Regions from separate parts of the Homo sapiens genome. Here region 2 is linked to region 1. The links come from fine-mapping of genetic effects on gene expression. A gene starts in region 1. The other region holds a variant in brackets. All regions are shown on one strand. Distances are from middle to middle.

What was found. PIP is the estimated chance that this variant, and not a neighbour inherited with it, causes the effect. A credible set is the group of variants that fine-mapping cannot tell apart.
Region 2: its variant is the best candidate, but not a certain one, in a credible set for the expression of SENP5 in monocytes (Quach 2016, PIP 0.70).

The regions. Positions count from the first base shown.
Region 1 is chr3:196,862,805-196,871,334 of GRCh38, reverse strand. It overlaps SENP5 (SUMO specific peptidase 5), which reads right to left and starts at 3,415. Exons shown (of 10, transcript NM_152699.5): 1 at 3,262-3,415. RefSeq lists an enhancer at 1,906-2,407 and a silencer at 3,059-3,638.
Region 2 is chr3:196,922,593-196,930,592 of GRCh38, reverse strand. It overlaps SENP5 (SUMO specific peptidase 5), which reads right to left. Exons shown (of 10, transcript NM_152699.5): 7 at 7,042-7,179; 8 at 2,714-2,797; 9 at 910-960. Among named protein-coding and RNA genes, the nearest start is that of NCBP2-AS1, 13 kb to the left of the region's middle. The variant TG/G (reference allele first, on the strand shown) is at 4,111.

The DNA of each region.
Region 1 (8,530 bases):
AATTCAACAACAACTAAAACTTCAGAATTAAGGTATTCCAGACACAAAAATAAAATTTTAGAGATTCAGCTATTTGGTTTCTCAGATACATACCAGGTCTCTCTAGACTCTGAATGTATTAGACAACCTATGTGTTACCATCACTTGTTTTTTGTTTTTTTTTCTGAGACAGAGTCTCACCCTGTTGCCAAAGCTGGAATGCAATGGTGCAACCTCGGCTCACTGCAACCTCTACCTCATGGGTTCAAACGATTCTCCTGCCTCAGCCTCCCGAGTAGCTGGGATTATAGGCGCCCGCCACCATGCCCAGCTAATTTTTTTGTATTTTCAGTACAGACGGAGTTTCACCATGTTGGCCAGGCTGTTCTCTAACTCCTGACTCGTGATCCACCCGCCTCGGCCTCCCAAAGTGCTGGGATTACAGGCATGAGCCACCGCACCAAGCCAACATGACTTTTTAAATCACTGACTTTAGGATATCCTTTGTCATCTGGTTGTAGAAAATCAACATGCTGCTGACCGGATACAGTGGCTCACACCTGTAATCCCCGCGCTTTGGGAGGCTGAGACGGAGAGATCACTTGAGGTCAGGAGTTCAAGACCAGCCTGGCCAACATGGTGAAACCCCATCTCTACTAAAAATACAAAAATTAGCCGGGCGTGGTGGTGGGCGCTTGTAATCCCAGCTACTTGGGAGGCTGAGACAGGACAATCACTTGAACCCGGGAGGCGGAAGTTGCAGTGAGCAGAGATCAAGCTGTTGCCCTCCAGCCTGCACAAGAGTGAAACTCTGTCTCAAAAGAAAAAAAAAGAAAATCAACATGCTATAAACATGATCATTTTAGAGAAAAAATAATTTAGTATATTTGGAGAATCTGTGATGTAGGGTCCATTTCCGGCTCTACTAATAATAGAGTAGGAATTGCTAAAGCAATAAGAAGGCTACCAAAGAATAATTGGAGAATGAATATATTTCCCTAAAAGAGAAAGTTCAACGCAGCCTGATGGCCTATTTACCTTAATTTTGAAAATATTACCCACGCCCAAAAAAAGTCACAAGGGTTTCACCATAATAGGTAAGAAAAATACATGTAAAGCACTGTGACCACCTTACCAGTTGACCCTTTCTGAGCGTCTACCAAATTCTTTAAATCAGTGACAGAGTACAATCTAACCAAGAAAAGAAAAAGGAACTAAAAATTCGCAAAGACATGCTTAATATCGCAAATGCCAAGGTGATCTACTTCAATCAGATGTTTGGCAACTAGAGAAGCACAGAACCCCGTTCTCAAACTGAGCTCCATAGGAAGCTGGCTAATAACACAAAGTAAATGGCCATGCATGCCAGGATGAAGGAGGCAGAAAGGCAGGCCTGTGTATAGAGCACTGGGTTTATGACAAGCTAGAATAAAAGCAAAATATTGTTAAATTTCAATTTTTCTATGATTTTTGAAGGATTCACATAATGGCCTACCAAAAAAAAAAAAAAAGGCTGATTTAGAAAGTAATATAGCCCAGGCGCAGTGACTCACTCCTGTAATCCCAGCACCTTTTTTTTTTTTTTTTTTTTTTTTTGAGACGGAGTTTTGCTCTTGTTGCCCAGGCTGGAGTGTAATGGCACTATCTCAGCTCACCACAACCTCGCCTCCCGGGTTCAAGCTAGTCTCCTGCCTCAGCCTTCCGAGTAGCTGGGATTACAGGCATGCGCCACCACGCCTGGCTAATTTTGTATTTTTAGTAGAGATGGGGTTTCACCATGTTGGTTAGGCTGATCTCGAACTCCCGACCTCAGGTGATCTGCCCGCCTCGGCCTCCCAAAGTGCTGGGATTACAGGCGTCAACCACCGCGCCCGGCTGATCCCAGCACTTTTGAGAGGCGGAAGCAGGTAGATCACTTGAGGTCAGGAGGTCGAGACCAGCCTGGCCAACATGGTGAAACCCCATGTCTACTAAAAATACAAAAATTAGCCGGGCGCGATGGCGGGCACCTGTAATCCCAGCTACTCTGGAGGCTGAGGCAGGAGAATCGCTTGAACCTGGGAGGAGGAGGTTGCAGTGAGCTGAAAAGATCGCGCCACTGCACTCCAGGCTGGGTGTCAGAGTGAGACCCTGTCCCCCCTCCAAAAAAAAATTGTGAGCCCAGGTGTAAATGAAGCCCCCCTCCCCAGCACCCTCCTCTACATACCAAGCTTTTCTCCTAGAAAAGATGCACTGGGAAAAAGCTATCTTGAGTAAAGATCAAAACTGATATAAGCCATCCCTCATATACCAATAATATGCCATCAATAAGCGTGAGACATGTGGATGGCTAGGAGAGAGTCTGGTTTCTTCCTGATGCTGCCCACCCAAAACAGAGACTGCAGTTAGGCTCTGACCACACGAGCGCCTGGCATCTCTAGGCAACCTTTTCCATACCAAGCTTAGTTATTCCGGGCAAAATGCAAAAAAAAAACATAAGTAGGAACCTATCATGAAGTGTCCTGGATATTCTTAAATTAAATTTAACCAGATTCTCAAAACATTTCATAACTAACGTCTGCTTTCTTCATTTAATTCTCCAAACATTATAATTTACATTGGTAGAAGAAAGTCCCACTTTACCTGCGGTGAAAAAGGTCGAAATGTCTATCTAGCATGAGATGAAAAACACTACCAGAGAGCAGGGTAGGATTTCACCTCGGCTATTCTCGCTCTAAGTCCAAAACTCCCACATCCTCTCCGCATCCCTCCACCCCGACAGAGTGGCCACAGGGCGTAGAGCGGAGGCTGATACCGCTCAGAGCAGACCGAAGGGAAAAGACGTCTCCCACCGCGCTCATGCCCAACCGGGCTCTCTGGAAAAGGGTCCCGGGGAGCGCGAGGAAAGAAACGAAGGCCGGAAGGAGGCAGAGCGGTCTAAGCAAATAAAAACCCCGGACTTCCACGGCGGCCGGAGCTGGAGGCCTGTGACAGCGGCTCCTCCTCTCAGAGCTTTCCCGGCTTCAGGAGGAGCTGGGGGGCGCCAGCTTCCCGGTGCCTGCGACGCACAGCCCGGCTGGAGCGAGAGCGCAGGGCAGCGGCCCCTCGGGACGAGCTCGCTCGCCTCCCCCGGAAAGGGAGGCTGTGGCCGAGACGGACGGCGGCCTCCAGCTCGGGCGGGGGAGGGCGGCTCGAGGCCTCCGGACCGGGCGCTGAGGTGGCGCACCGGCGCGGGAATGGCCCCAGCCAGCCCCGCCAGGCGATCGCTGAGTCCGTCACTCGTCTGCCCGCGTCCCCGCTTACCTGCTACCCTCGTTCCTGGCAGCTGCCCCGCCGCCGGCCCCGTCGCGGCAGCAGCCTGGACCGCGGACCCCGCCTTCGTCAGCTCCAAGGGAAGCCCCGCCAGCGACGAGGCGTCCGGCCTGTTCGCCGCGGCCACAGCCGCCGAGCTTCCTCTGAAGCGGCTGCCGCGACGCCGGCGCTGGCCTATCGCGTCACCTCCTCCGCGCCCTTCCGCCTGCGAGGCTGGGCCTGGCACCGCCCGCTTCCGGCGCTCCCGCCCCGCCTCCCGACCCGGGGCCGCCCCGCCCCCGCCCGTCACCGCGTCCTTAGCCCCGGCCTCCCTCAGAACGCGCTGGGATGGGAACCGCGTTCAGGAGCTGCTAAGCGCGTTTGAGACTTCAGCCCCTTCTCCAGCTTTTAACCTAAAAGGGCTAAATCAGACCGCAGCTAGTGTACACCCCTACCCTCCGCTGATCCCGTCACCCCTGCGCCGAAAGCAAAAGACCCATTCCAGCTCTGGACGTTGTGAGGCCTGGCCCAGGCGTCCGCTCTCTGGTTTTCCTATTGATCTTACCCCTGGTATTGTGATTGGCCTCTTTATCTATGTCTTACCCGCCCCAACTGTGAATGCTTTCCAAAATTATAAGCCGATGTCCTGACAGGCAAAAACATAATAATAGCAGATTTATGGCGGAAGATGAGTTCAGTTTTGAACATACTCGATCTGGAAGAATAAAGTGGAGGTGACTGCAATGGAAAACCAACAGTGCGTTGCTGAGAGCCTGTGTAGGCAGTAAGGATATGCATTGATGGTGGAGAAGATAAAAACAATACCGAAGCCAACTGCAGGATGGTTTGCTTTTAATTATCATCATGTGTCAGAAAATTCTAAACAATGTTAATGAAAAAGTACTCCTTTCCAAACAAAAGCTTTGTTTAGTCTTAGTTCTAAGCAATGGCTGCAATTACTGTTGATTTTTTTTTCTTTTTTCTTTTCTTTTTTTTTTTTTTCCAAACAGGGTCTTGCTGTCTCGCCCAAGCCGGAGTGCCGTGGCACACCCTAGGCTCGCTGTAACCTCTGCCTCCTGGGCTCAAGCGATCCTCCCACCTCATCTTCCAGGGTACCTGCGACCACAGGCTCCTGCACCACGCCCGGCTAATTTTTTATTACTATTACTATCATTATTTTTGTAGCGATGACATCTCCCTATGTTGCCCAGGCTGGTCTTGAACCCCTGAGCTCAAGTGATCCTCCCACCTGGGCCTCCCACAGTGCTCGAATTACAGGCGTGAACCACCACACCAGGCCCTCTCACTTCTTTTTAACAGTTTCTCTTTGTCAGTGATTTTTTTTTTTTTTTTAGAGGAGTGTCGCTCTGTCGCCCAGGCTGCAGTGCAGTGGCGCCATCTCGGCTCACTGCAAGCTCTGCCTCCCGGGTTCACGCCATTCTCCTGCCTCAGCCTCCTGAGTAGCTGGGACTACAGGCGTCCACCACCACGCTTGGCTAATTTTTTTTGTATTTCTTTAGTAGAGACCGGGTTTCACCAAGTTAGCCAGGATAATCTCGATCTCCTGACCTCGTGATCTGCCCGCCTCAGCCCCCCAAAGTGCTGGGATTACAGGCGTGAGCCACCGCACCCAGCCTGTTAGTGATTTTTAGCCATTTATTTTGTGCCCTATCTTTGTTTTCTTTGTATTTATCTGTCTTGGATATCATTGAGTTTCTCTGATTTGTGGGTAGATGTCTTGCATCAGTTTTGAGAAATTCTCAATCATTATCTCTTCAGATATGGTTTTTGCTGCATTCTCTATGCCTGTTCTCCGAGACACCAATTACATATGTAAGATTATTATTATTATTATTGAGACAGAGTTTCACTCTTTTTGCTCAAGCTGGAGTGCAGTGGCGCAATCTCGTCTCACTGCAACCTCTGCCTCTGCCTCCCGGGTTCAAGCGATAATCCTGCCTCAGCAGTATTATCTACTGAGGTAGATAATACTATTATAATAGTATTATTATCGAGTAGCCAGAATTACAAGCGCCCACCACCACGCCCGGCTAATTTTTGTATTTTTAGTAGAGATAGGGTTTCACCATGTTGGTCAGGCCGGTCTTCAACTCCTGACCTCCGGTGATCCACCTGCCTCAGCCTCCCAAAGTGCTGGGATTACAGGCATGAGCCACGGCACCCAGCCCATATGTAAGATTATTTGATCTTGTTCACCGTGTCTTTTACACTTTGTGATGTCAATTTTTTTTTCAATTATTCAGTTTGAAGGTTTTCTGTTTTTCAGGTTATTGAGTCTATCTTCTATAATCTCCAATCTGCTGTTAAATCTATACATTGAGTTCTTAATTTTAAATATTAGATTTTCAGGTTTTGTTTTTTTTTGTTGTTGTTGTTTGTTTTTTTTTTTTGAGGCCAAGCTTCGCCCTTGTTGCCCAGGCTGGAGTACAATGGCGCAATCTCGGCTCACTGCAACCTCTGCCTCCCAGGTTCAAGTGATTCTGCCTCAGCCTCCCAAGTAGCTGGTATTACAGGTGACCGCCACCACACCCAGCTAATTTTTGTATTTTTAGAAGAGATAGAGTTTCACCATGTTGGCCAGGCTGGTCTCAAACCCCTGACCTCGTGATCCACCCATCTCAGCCTTCCAAAGTGCTGGGATTACAGGCGTGAGCCACTGCATCTGGCCTGTTGTTACCATCCTTATATCCACGAATACTCATTATTTAGCTTCTACTTATAACTGAGAGCATGTAGCATTTGGATTTTTGTTCCTGCATTATTTCACTTAGGATAACAGCCTCAAGCTACATTCATATTTCAGCAAAAGACATGACTTCATACTTTTTATGGCTGTGAAGTATTCCATAGCGTGTTTGTACATTTTCTTTATCCAGTCCACCATCGATGGGCACCGAGGTTGACTCCATGTCATTGCTATTGTGAACAGTGCTGCAATGAACATACAAATGCATGTGTTTTTTTGGTAGGATAATTTATTTTCTTTTGGATGTATACCCAGTAATGGGATTGCTGGATCAAATGGTAGTTCTGTTTTAAGTTATTTAAGAAATCTCCAGGCCGGGCACAGTGGATCACGCCTGTAATCCCAGCACTTTGGGAGGCCGAGTGGAGCAGATCACCTTAGGTCAGGAGTTTGAGACCAGCCTGGCCAACATGGTGAAACCCTGTCTCTACTAAAAACACAAAAATTAGCTGGGTGTGGTGGTGGGTGACCGTAATCCCAGCTACTCTGGAGGCTGAGGCAGGAGAATTGCCTGACCCTGGGAGGCAGAAGTTGCAGTGAGCCGAGATCGTACCACTGCACTCCAGCATGCGTGACAGAGCAAGACTCTGTCTTGAAGAAAAAAAAAAGAAAAGAAATCTCCAAACTGCTTTCCACAGTAACTGAACTAATTTACATTTTCACCAACAGAGTATAAGTGTTCCCATTTCTCTGCAGCCTCAACAGCATGTTATTTTTTGGCTTTTTAATAATAGCTATTCCGACTGGTGTGAGATGGTATCTAATTGTGATTTTCATTTGCTTTTCTCTGATGATTAGTGATGTTGAGCATTTTTTTATATGTTTGTGGGCCACTTGTATGTCTTCTTTTGAGAAGTTCCTATTTATGTGTTTTGCCCATTTTATTTTATTTATTTATTTATATATTTATTTATTTACATGGAGTCTTACTGTATTGCCCAGGCTGGAGTGCAATGGCACAATCTTGGCTCACTGCACCCTCTATGTCCTGGGTTCAAGCAATTCTCCTGCCTAAGCCTCCCAAGTAGCTGGGATTACAGGCGCACACCACCACGCCTGGCTACTTTTTGTATTTTTAATAGAGTTGGGGTTTCACCATGTTGGACAGGCTGGTCTTGAACTCCCAACCTCGTAATCTGCCCTCCTTGGGCTCCAAAAGTTCTGGGATTACAGGTGTGAGCCGCCTCTCCCAGCCATTTGCCCATTTTTAATGGGGATATTTGTTTCTTGTTTGTTCAGTTAAGTTCCTTATAGATTCTGATATTGAACCTTTGTTGGATGCATAAATTATGAATATTTTCTCCCATTGTAAGTTGTCTGTTTACTCTGTTGATAGGTTCTTTTGCTGTGCAGAAGTTCTTTGCTTTAATTAGGTCCCATTTGTCAAGTTTTGGTTTTGTTGCAATTGCTTTTGAGGATTTAGTCATAAATTATTTCCCAAAGCCAATGTCCAGAATGGTGTTTCCCAGGATTTCTTCTACGATTCTTATAGCTTGAAGGGTTACATTTAAATTCTCAATTTGTTTTGAGTTAATTTTAATATACGGTGAAAAGTGGGGCTCCAGTTTTATTCTTTTGCATATAGCTAGCCAACTATCTTAGCACAATTTATTGAATACAGTGTTCTTTCCCCTTTGCTTGTTATTATCAACCTTGCCAAAGATCAGATGACCATAGGTGTTGTTTTTTTTTTAACCAATACCATGCTGTTTTGGTTACTGTAGCCTTGTAGTATAGCTTGAAGTCCAGTAATGTGATGCCTCTGGCTTTATTCTTTCCACTTAGGATTGCTTTCGCTATTCAGAGTCTTTCTGATTCCATGTAGATTTTAGAATAATTTTTTCTAGTTCCTTGAAAAATGACGTTGGTAGTGACAGGTGAAGCCAGCTGGACTTCCTGGGTTGAGTGGGGACTTGGAGAACTTTTCTGTCTTTAAAGAGGATTGTAAAATGCACCAATCGGCACTCTGTAAAAATGCGCCAATCAATGCTTTGTAGCTAGCAAGAGAATTGTAAAATGCACCAATCAGTGCTCTGTAAAACGCACCAATCAGCGCTCTGTAGCTAGCAAGCAGATTGTAAAATGCACCAATCAGCGCTCTGTAAAACGCACCAATCAGCACGCTGTAGCTAGCAAGAGGATTGTAAAATGCACCAATCAGCACTCTGTAAAACACACCAATCAGCATGCTGTAAAATGCACCAATCAGTGTTCTGTAAAATGCACCAATCAGCAGGATCCTAAAAGTAGCCAATTGCAGGGAGGATTGAAAAAAGTGCACTCTGGGCTGGGCGGTGGCTCACTGTATAATCTTAGCACTTTGGGAGGCCGAAGTGGGCGGATCAGAAGGTCAGGAGATCAAGACCATCCTGGCTAACATGGTGAAACCCCATCTCTACTAAAAATACAAAAAATTATTCAGCATCATACTTAATGGGGGCACCATAAAAGTGCTCCCAAACTTGAAGTCAAGAACAAAAGCAGTTTATCCATTTTTACAGCTATTACTTAATA
Region 2 (8,000 bases), 60 kb before region 1:
GGGTGAGCAACCTAGATCCCTCGCATCTGCAGTTCACAACAGGGTTCACACTCCTAAGAGAACCTAATGTGGACAGTATCTGTCCGTGGCCCAGGGGTTTGGGACCCCGATCTAAGGCAGCATTTTCATGTCTGTTTAAACTACTGTAAAAATACACTGTTTTAAGCATTTACCCAAATTATAGGTGACTGACCAAGCTAGTGCATGGCTTGGGATCTCCTCTCCCTCCTGACCCAATACTGTGAAAAGCAGCAACTGATGAAAAGGCCTCAATTCCTCCCAAAGTGCAACCTGCTGGAGTGCAGCTAGACCCATCATGGCCCTTAATGGGAACTTGAATTTGTTTATAAAACCCCAAACATGCATGAGGTATACAAACGAACCGGTCTTCCAAGATCTTTGCAAATCTCTAAATTCATGCATCATATTCTGTAATTTCCAACATAAATATATGTATAACTGAATTTTTTTCCATAGCCCTTTTCGATCTCTAAGGAGATCTACAGCACAAGATGGCAGTTTCTCAACGTGGACCTTATTTAAAATCTAATCACTGTGTCAAAGACCTGCAGATTGCTTGCCAATGTTTTTTTTTTTTTTTTTTTATGCAAATGCCAATGGTTATGATATGGACAAATTCAAGTCAGTCTCCAATGTGGCTTACTAATAACCTCCAGTGAGACATGGATGACACCCACACTTCACTCTTGATCCCTGGAAGGTGGTTCTTCCTAATGATAACATCTGAACATGCAGAAACTACTGCTCCTCAGCAATAAAGGGGAGGGAAAGTACTCCGTTGCTCGTACCTAGCATCATATACACATACAGGAACTGCCATCTCTCCCCTCTCAACCCAACAGACTCAATTCACACATTGTAAGTTCCGAAAAGCAAGTGTTTCTTTACCTGGAGCACAAAGACTCCACAGTCACTGTCGTTTTTCTGTTGTGGAATACACTGAAGGGAAAAACAAAATAGTCATTAAAACAAGATCCATTACTTCTCTTCAGATAAGAAAAACTCCTTTATGGAAAAATGCGCAAAAGATAGGAAACTTTTCTCTCTCCAGGACAGCTGGTATATCTGATATCTCAAGCATCTAATTTTATGGAGGCACCTGGCCACATAAAAAGAGCTATCAGGTGGCAACCCCAATTTATAGGACAATGTTTTACCTAAATATGAGAAATGGGAAATCAAATGTAAAAACCTGTTTTAAAACATGCATTTGGATACTGAGCTCTGCTATCAATTCATTGACAGTGGAGTCAAAATGGAACTGTGCCTGGGAGAACAAAGGCCCAGCCTCTGGATGCTAGGATGGCGACAACTCCGCTGAGCAGTCTTCACTTCTGATCTCACATCACACGACCCTGTCCTATTCTTTGAAAGAAATCGTGAAGGTAAACAGTATGGTTTTTGTTTTGGGTTTTTCGCGACAGGGTCTCACTCTGTCGCCCAGGCTGGAGTGCAGTGGCACGATCTCAGTCTCCTGAGTTCAAGCAATCCTCCCACCTCAGCATCCCAAGTAGCTGGGACTACGCCTGGCTAATTTTATTATTTGTAGAGATGAGGTCTCACCATGTTGCCCAGGCTGGTCTTGAACTCCTAGACTCACGCAATCCACGCACCTTTGCCTCCCAAAGTGCTGGGATTACAGGTGTGAGCCACTGTGCCCGGCCAACAGTATGTTTTTAAAAGAACTGGTTACTGTATTCTGCTCAAAGCGGTAATACAGAAGATCCTGACTAAATTTAGAATACCCAGATTTTTTAGTTGGGTAAATTCAGGAAATTTACTAGTTCTGGTTTGAACTGGTATACTAGGTTATTCAAAACACAAAACTTAAGCTTAATTTTAAAATTTAGCATTTGGTTCGGTTCAAGGGTGAACTAATAAATCTTGTCTCTTTGGGTTTGGGTTAAAGGTTTGTTTCAAGATCCTGCCTATAACATCCTGTCAATGATCCAGACAGACCTGTGTTCAAGGACCTGACTCTGTATCAATAGTTTTGATGTCCTTTGGGGAAAATCACACCTGGGCTTCAGTTTTCTCATTTACAAAATAAAGACGATGCTTATCCCTAAATGACCTGCCTACCTCACAGGTTATAAGGATCAAATGAGATCCAATACACAAAAACACTGGAAACAACACAGCCCACCATCAATGAAGACACTGGTATTTACGACAGGAATGAGCGGCTGTGCCTGGGCACTCTGCCCCACAGTTTGAATGTCATGGGCCAAGCATGGTGCTGCATCCAGACAGTGGTGGGACTGAAGCGCTTGGGCTACTATCTTCCCCACATGCCTGCCAAGTAGCTCAATGCACTTTCTCCCCCTCAGTGGATCCAAATAGTCATTTCAGCATTTCTCTGGGTCTATATGGGTCATCTGGAAATAAGAGCCATGATGCAAGAGGCAAGTGCCACCCAAAAAAGATTTTTTTTTTCCCCAGAAGAGCAAACACATCATTAGCAACTTCCTCAGGGAGGAAATGACTGAAGTGATTTGCTCCCGGGAAGCACTGGGCAACTGAGCAGCGATGATGAATAGTCAACTGAAGTTCATTCTCAGCTGCCTCCCTGGAGCCTCCAGGCTCTCCTTGGTATCTCTGTCACTAGTCTTCAAATGCTCTTAAAGGCACCCACCCTTAGATAATTCCATCCCCTGGACATGCCTGGGTTTCATTGTTATCACATACTTACCTTCGTAACAGCAGTCTGCCAACCCTGAAGAAATTCAGGTCTATTTTTTTCTCTGGCTTCAGTCAGCAAATACTTTCTTATATTCTGGTTAAAAAGAAACCACAACACAGATGCTGTGTTCCATCAGTTGGTGAAAAATGGAACATGCCCATAGCAGACAGAAGGAAAGGAGGAGGCTGTGGCCCCATAACTGGGCAGAATATGCATTAAGAAGCTGGAACAATTTTTTTTTTTTTTTTTTTTAAAGAGAGGATCTTGCTCTGTCACCCAGGCTGGAGTACAATGGCGTGATCATAGCTCACTGCAGCCTTGAACTCCTAGGCTTCAGAGATCCTCCTACCTCAGCCTTCCAAGTAGCTGGGACTATAGGTGTACACCACCGCTCCCGGCTAAAGCCGGGACTTTATTTCAGACTCTTCATTTCATATTGTTAAGGGGGAGTCAGACCTTCTGTATTCAAGGTATGCATCAAGACTGTGGACGCTGGCATTTGTGTAATCAGAACGTTTTATGAGATGGTTAGCCAGCCCTTCCCAGCAGTAAGTCAGCTTGCTGCATTTGAAACTTACATACTGGCAAGTCAAAAAGAAAGTCTTCATCATTGCCCATGCTCAACAGAGGAAAGGAACCCATGGCAGACATCATTAATAACTAAAACTAAATGAAAAATATTCCAGCCTTAGATATTCTGATACACTCCTTATTTTTGAGGGCTGCAGAAAAGGTTAACATTCAGCTTCTGGAAAGTAATACTAAAATTCCTTCTGAATACTAAATATGCTCAAGTCCACTGTTGAACTATCTACCAAGATGAAGCCTGCTGGAGTTTCAAAATGTCCCCAGTGCTCTCAACCTCTGTGCGTCTCTCTCCACATCAAGAGTGAAGTCAGAGGTTATGTGAATAACCCACCCCACCCCCCAACAAAAGTGGACCAGGGCCAGACGCGGTGGCTCACACCTGTAATCCCAGCACTTTGGGTGGCTGAGGCAGGTGGATCACATGAGGTGAGGTCAGGAGTTCAAGATCAGCCTGACCAACATGGTGAAACCCCATTTCTACTAAAAATACAAAAATTAGCCAGGTGTGGTGGTGCACACCTGTAATCCCAGCTACTCCAGAGGCTGAGACATGAGAATCGCTTGAACCCAGGAGGCGGAGGTTGCCATGAGCCAAGACTGGGCCACTGCACTCCAACCCAGGGGACAGAGTGAGACTCTGACTCAAAAAAAAAAAAAAAAAGGTGGACTGGAAGCCACCTCTTCAGAAGAAAAAACATGATGAAAGCAAATACTTAATATCCAACAAAGTATGACAGCATGTTGCACTGCTCCCTCTAAAGAAGTAACTTCAAGTTCTCAGAATAAGCAGTATATATAAATTCTTTTTTTTTTTTTTT[TG/G]AGACGGAGTCTTGCTCTGTTACCCAGGCTAGAGTGTAGTGGTGCGATCTCGGCTCGCTGCAACCTCCACCTCCCAGGTTCAAGCGATTCTCCTGCCTCAGCCTCCCGAGTAGCTGGGACTACAGGCGTGCACCACCATGCCCAGCTAATTTTTGTATTTTTAATAGAGACGGGGTTTCACCATGTTGGCCAGGCTGGTCTCTATCTCTTGACCTTCTGATCCGCCCGCCTCAGCCTCCCAAAGTGCTGGGATCACAGGCGTGAGCCACCCTGCCCGGCCAGTATATGTACATTCTTAAGTAAAATACAGGCAAAAAGGATTTGTCCTTAAAAATGGTCACCGGCACTCAAAATGTACTGAGCATCTCTAAGGGTTCAAGTGCTGGGGACACTAGTGAATAAAGCTCTTGTAGTCTCTGCTGTCATGGAATCTACACATTTATGTGGTGACTGTTTAAAACACTTTTTGTCAATTCTTTGGAAATACAGGCCCCTTAGTTAAGAGCCACTTCTACAACCCCTACATCCTCTTAAAACTAAAAACAGCTTGACCCCACCTGGCCAGATGACTGAACTGTATTTGGCTCTAAATGACTTCTAGCTATCACCTAAAAGGAGTCTGTTCTTAGGGTCTTTTTGCAAATGTGCAAAATTATTAGGCCAATTGTAATTTTGCTGAAAAGGTAAGAACTCTGCAGGAGGGCTTGGGCAAAAATTCAGAAGATGAATTTTTATTACTGTGCAGAACCAGGCCCTAATGATTCAAAATCGACTTAAACCCAACTGCATGTTTTACAAACAAAATCCTGTTTAACCATCATTCACTCCATGAAGGCGAATGTTTCTCTGGCCCCTACCTGACTCCCTAGCATCAGTGCCTGGCACAAAGCAAGAGGCACAGTAAATAGTTCCTACTTGAAACAGTTTTCCCAACACCTCTGCTCTCCTCTGCCTGTCAGAATCTGAGTCTTAAAGGCACTGATATGGCTGCACTTTTGGTTATACCTTTGCAGGTCTGTCTAGGAAAGAGACAATATAGACAGGCTCTGGCAGGTATGGGAATATGTTGGTTGAGAGAAAGGCAAGGAATTAGGGGAAGGGAACTGGAAAAGACGCTCACATCTGGTATTGTGAGAACTCTGGGCCCACGAGGCTTCTTGTTTTTGGGGTATTTTTTTTCCTGGATTTCTTGGAAATGAAAATGTGGATTTCGAAAACTTGATTTTCCTCATAGTTTGCATTATACTTAATTTTTAAATTAAATGTTAATTAAACAAATAATACAAGAAAATATTCTCCTTGTAAAAAAAAAAACGCAAAATGAGGCCAAATCCTCTTTAACTATTAGTCCTGCTTTTCTACACTTACCCAAAGGTAATAATCATTGATATAAAAAATGGTAAGGTCCCACCTTTTTACTTACAAATATGTATGTATATATGTGTCTACACATACACCTGCATGTATTTGTGTACTATACCGTATCATTCCACAATTGGCTTTTTAAAGCTCTATGCCTTGGACATCTTTCCATTTGAGGACTTGAAGGTCTACTATATTCAATTTAACTACTATGGTCAGTTTAATAGTATGGGTATACCGTACCATAGTGTATTTAGCTATTCTCTTGCTAGAGCTAAATTTGGGTTGTTTTATTTTGCACTATTATAAATAATGCTGCCATGAACATCCTCGCACATGCCTCATTCTTGTGTGCATATACAAGCATTTTTATGCAGTAGATAACAAGAAATGGAACTGATATGCAACAGAATTTGTATCTTTTTAATTTACAAAGCACTTAGAACTGATGAGAACTGCAACTATCCCCAAGCGGCTGTATCAATTTATACACTCTAACCAGAAAATATGAGAATGCCTATTTCCTTACACTTACATAGACACTTGAATAGCATCACTTTTTCTAACATAATGGGCAAAAAATTTAACTGATGTAGTTTTCATTTGCATTTCTATAATTTCTGGTAAGGCTGAACACCTCTCTGTGTTTTTAAATGGTCATTTGCATTTTTCCTAAAATTTACTAAATTAGCCTTTGTCCATTTCTATTATGTCCTTTTATCCTCCCCTTATTCATTTGTAGGAGTTTTCCATGTATTCTGGATAGTTATTGTCTGTTATTTGCATCATACATATTTTCTCCAAGTCTGTTGCTTGTCCTTTAACTTTATGATATACAGAAGTTTTAAATTATTAGGTGGTTAAATTTATCCAATTGTTCCTTATGTCTTTTCTTTGGTTCCATGTTAAGAAGTCCTTCCCCACTCTGTGAACATAACATTTTCCATATTTCATTCAAATACTTTTACAGTTTTGTACAGATTTCTTTTAAGTACTTAAAGCTTTAGGAGTTTTCATAATAAAGAATTTCCACATTTCTTCCTAGGGCATATTCCTGGGTTATTTATGTTTTGTTTCTTTTATAAATGGAATCTTATTCCCAGTTACATTTTCTTACTGGTTCTTGGTAGTGCAGGAAAATCCGGAAACCTACTCATTTTTCTTGATTTTGTATCCCACCATCTGTTTATTAGCTGAACACTAATATTTTGTCAATTGATTCCATTAGGTTATAGTTTATTCTACAGGAGTTATTTTGCAGATACAGGCCAATTTTAGCTCTAAGATGATCAAAGAAAAACAATTTCTAACCACATTCAAGATGTAGTTTTAAGGGAAAAGCAGAGAAAATCCAAGTGGAGTATCTCAGAGGGGGATCTGGATCCTAGACAGATCCTCTCCTCAGCCAGAGATTCCTCTTCTAGTCCTTTTCTCAGCTAACACTTTGGAGGATTTTCATGACATAAACTGTTCCTATATGGTTTTGACTGCTGCTGTTCTATCTAGAGCTAAGATGCTATTTGGCCAATTACAAAATAAATGAAAAAATAGGCAGTATATTAACTTACCTCTACACAAAACTTAAAATGAATGCCTTGGGAATCATAAAATGAAATAATTCGATTAGAGAGTGTCACAGTAATGAGAGACCAGTGGACTTCCAGGTGAATAGGAATCAACAGAAGACTCTTTTTAAACAAATCCACCTGATCAAGAAAAGAGAAAGAAATGCAGCCATCACCACAGGCTATCCAAACCACCAAAAACCAGCAGCTTCCATTTGCTGACCTTTGACCTGCACAAGGGCAAAAAAGTAGGAAGCAATGAACCAGAATTTGAACCCAGGTCTTACTCTAAGCCCATGCTTGTAACTATTAAGCTATAATACACAACAATAATACAAAAATAAAGATATACAAAGTACAGTTTTCCAGTTAATCTACTAAACCTGTGTGTCAAGTGCCTGAAGACTTGGCTCCTTGTTTACCTCATTTTCTCATATACATATTTAACCTGGATTCAACTCTTGTTTAGAAAGGAATCATAGTATTAGAAAATGGTATAAGGGGCCAGGCACGGTGGCTCACACCTGTAATCCCAGTACATTGGGAGGCTGAGGCGGAAAAACTGCTTGAGCCCAGGAGTTTGAGACCAGCCTGGGCAACATAATGAGACTCTGTCTCTACAAAAAAATAAAAAATCAGGCCGGGCTCAGTGGCTCACGCCTGTAATCCCAGCACTTTGAGAGGCCAACAGATGGTTTGAGCTCAAGAGTTCAGGACCAGCCTGGGTGACATGGCGAAACACTGTATCTACAAAAAAATACAAAAACTAACCGGGCGTGGTGGTGTGCACTGGTAGTCGCAGTTACTTGGTAGGCTGAGGTTCAAAGGATGGCTTGAGCCTGGGAGGCGGAGGTTGCACTGAGCAGAGATTGCACCACTGCACTCCAGCCTGGGTGACAGAGCCAGACCTTGTCTCAAGAAAAATAAATAAATAAAAAATCAGCCAGGTGTGGTGGTGCATG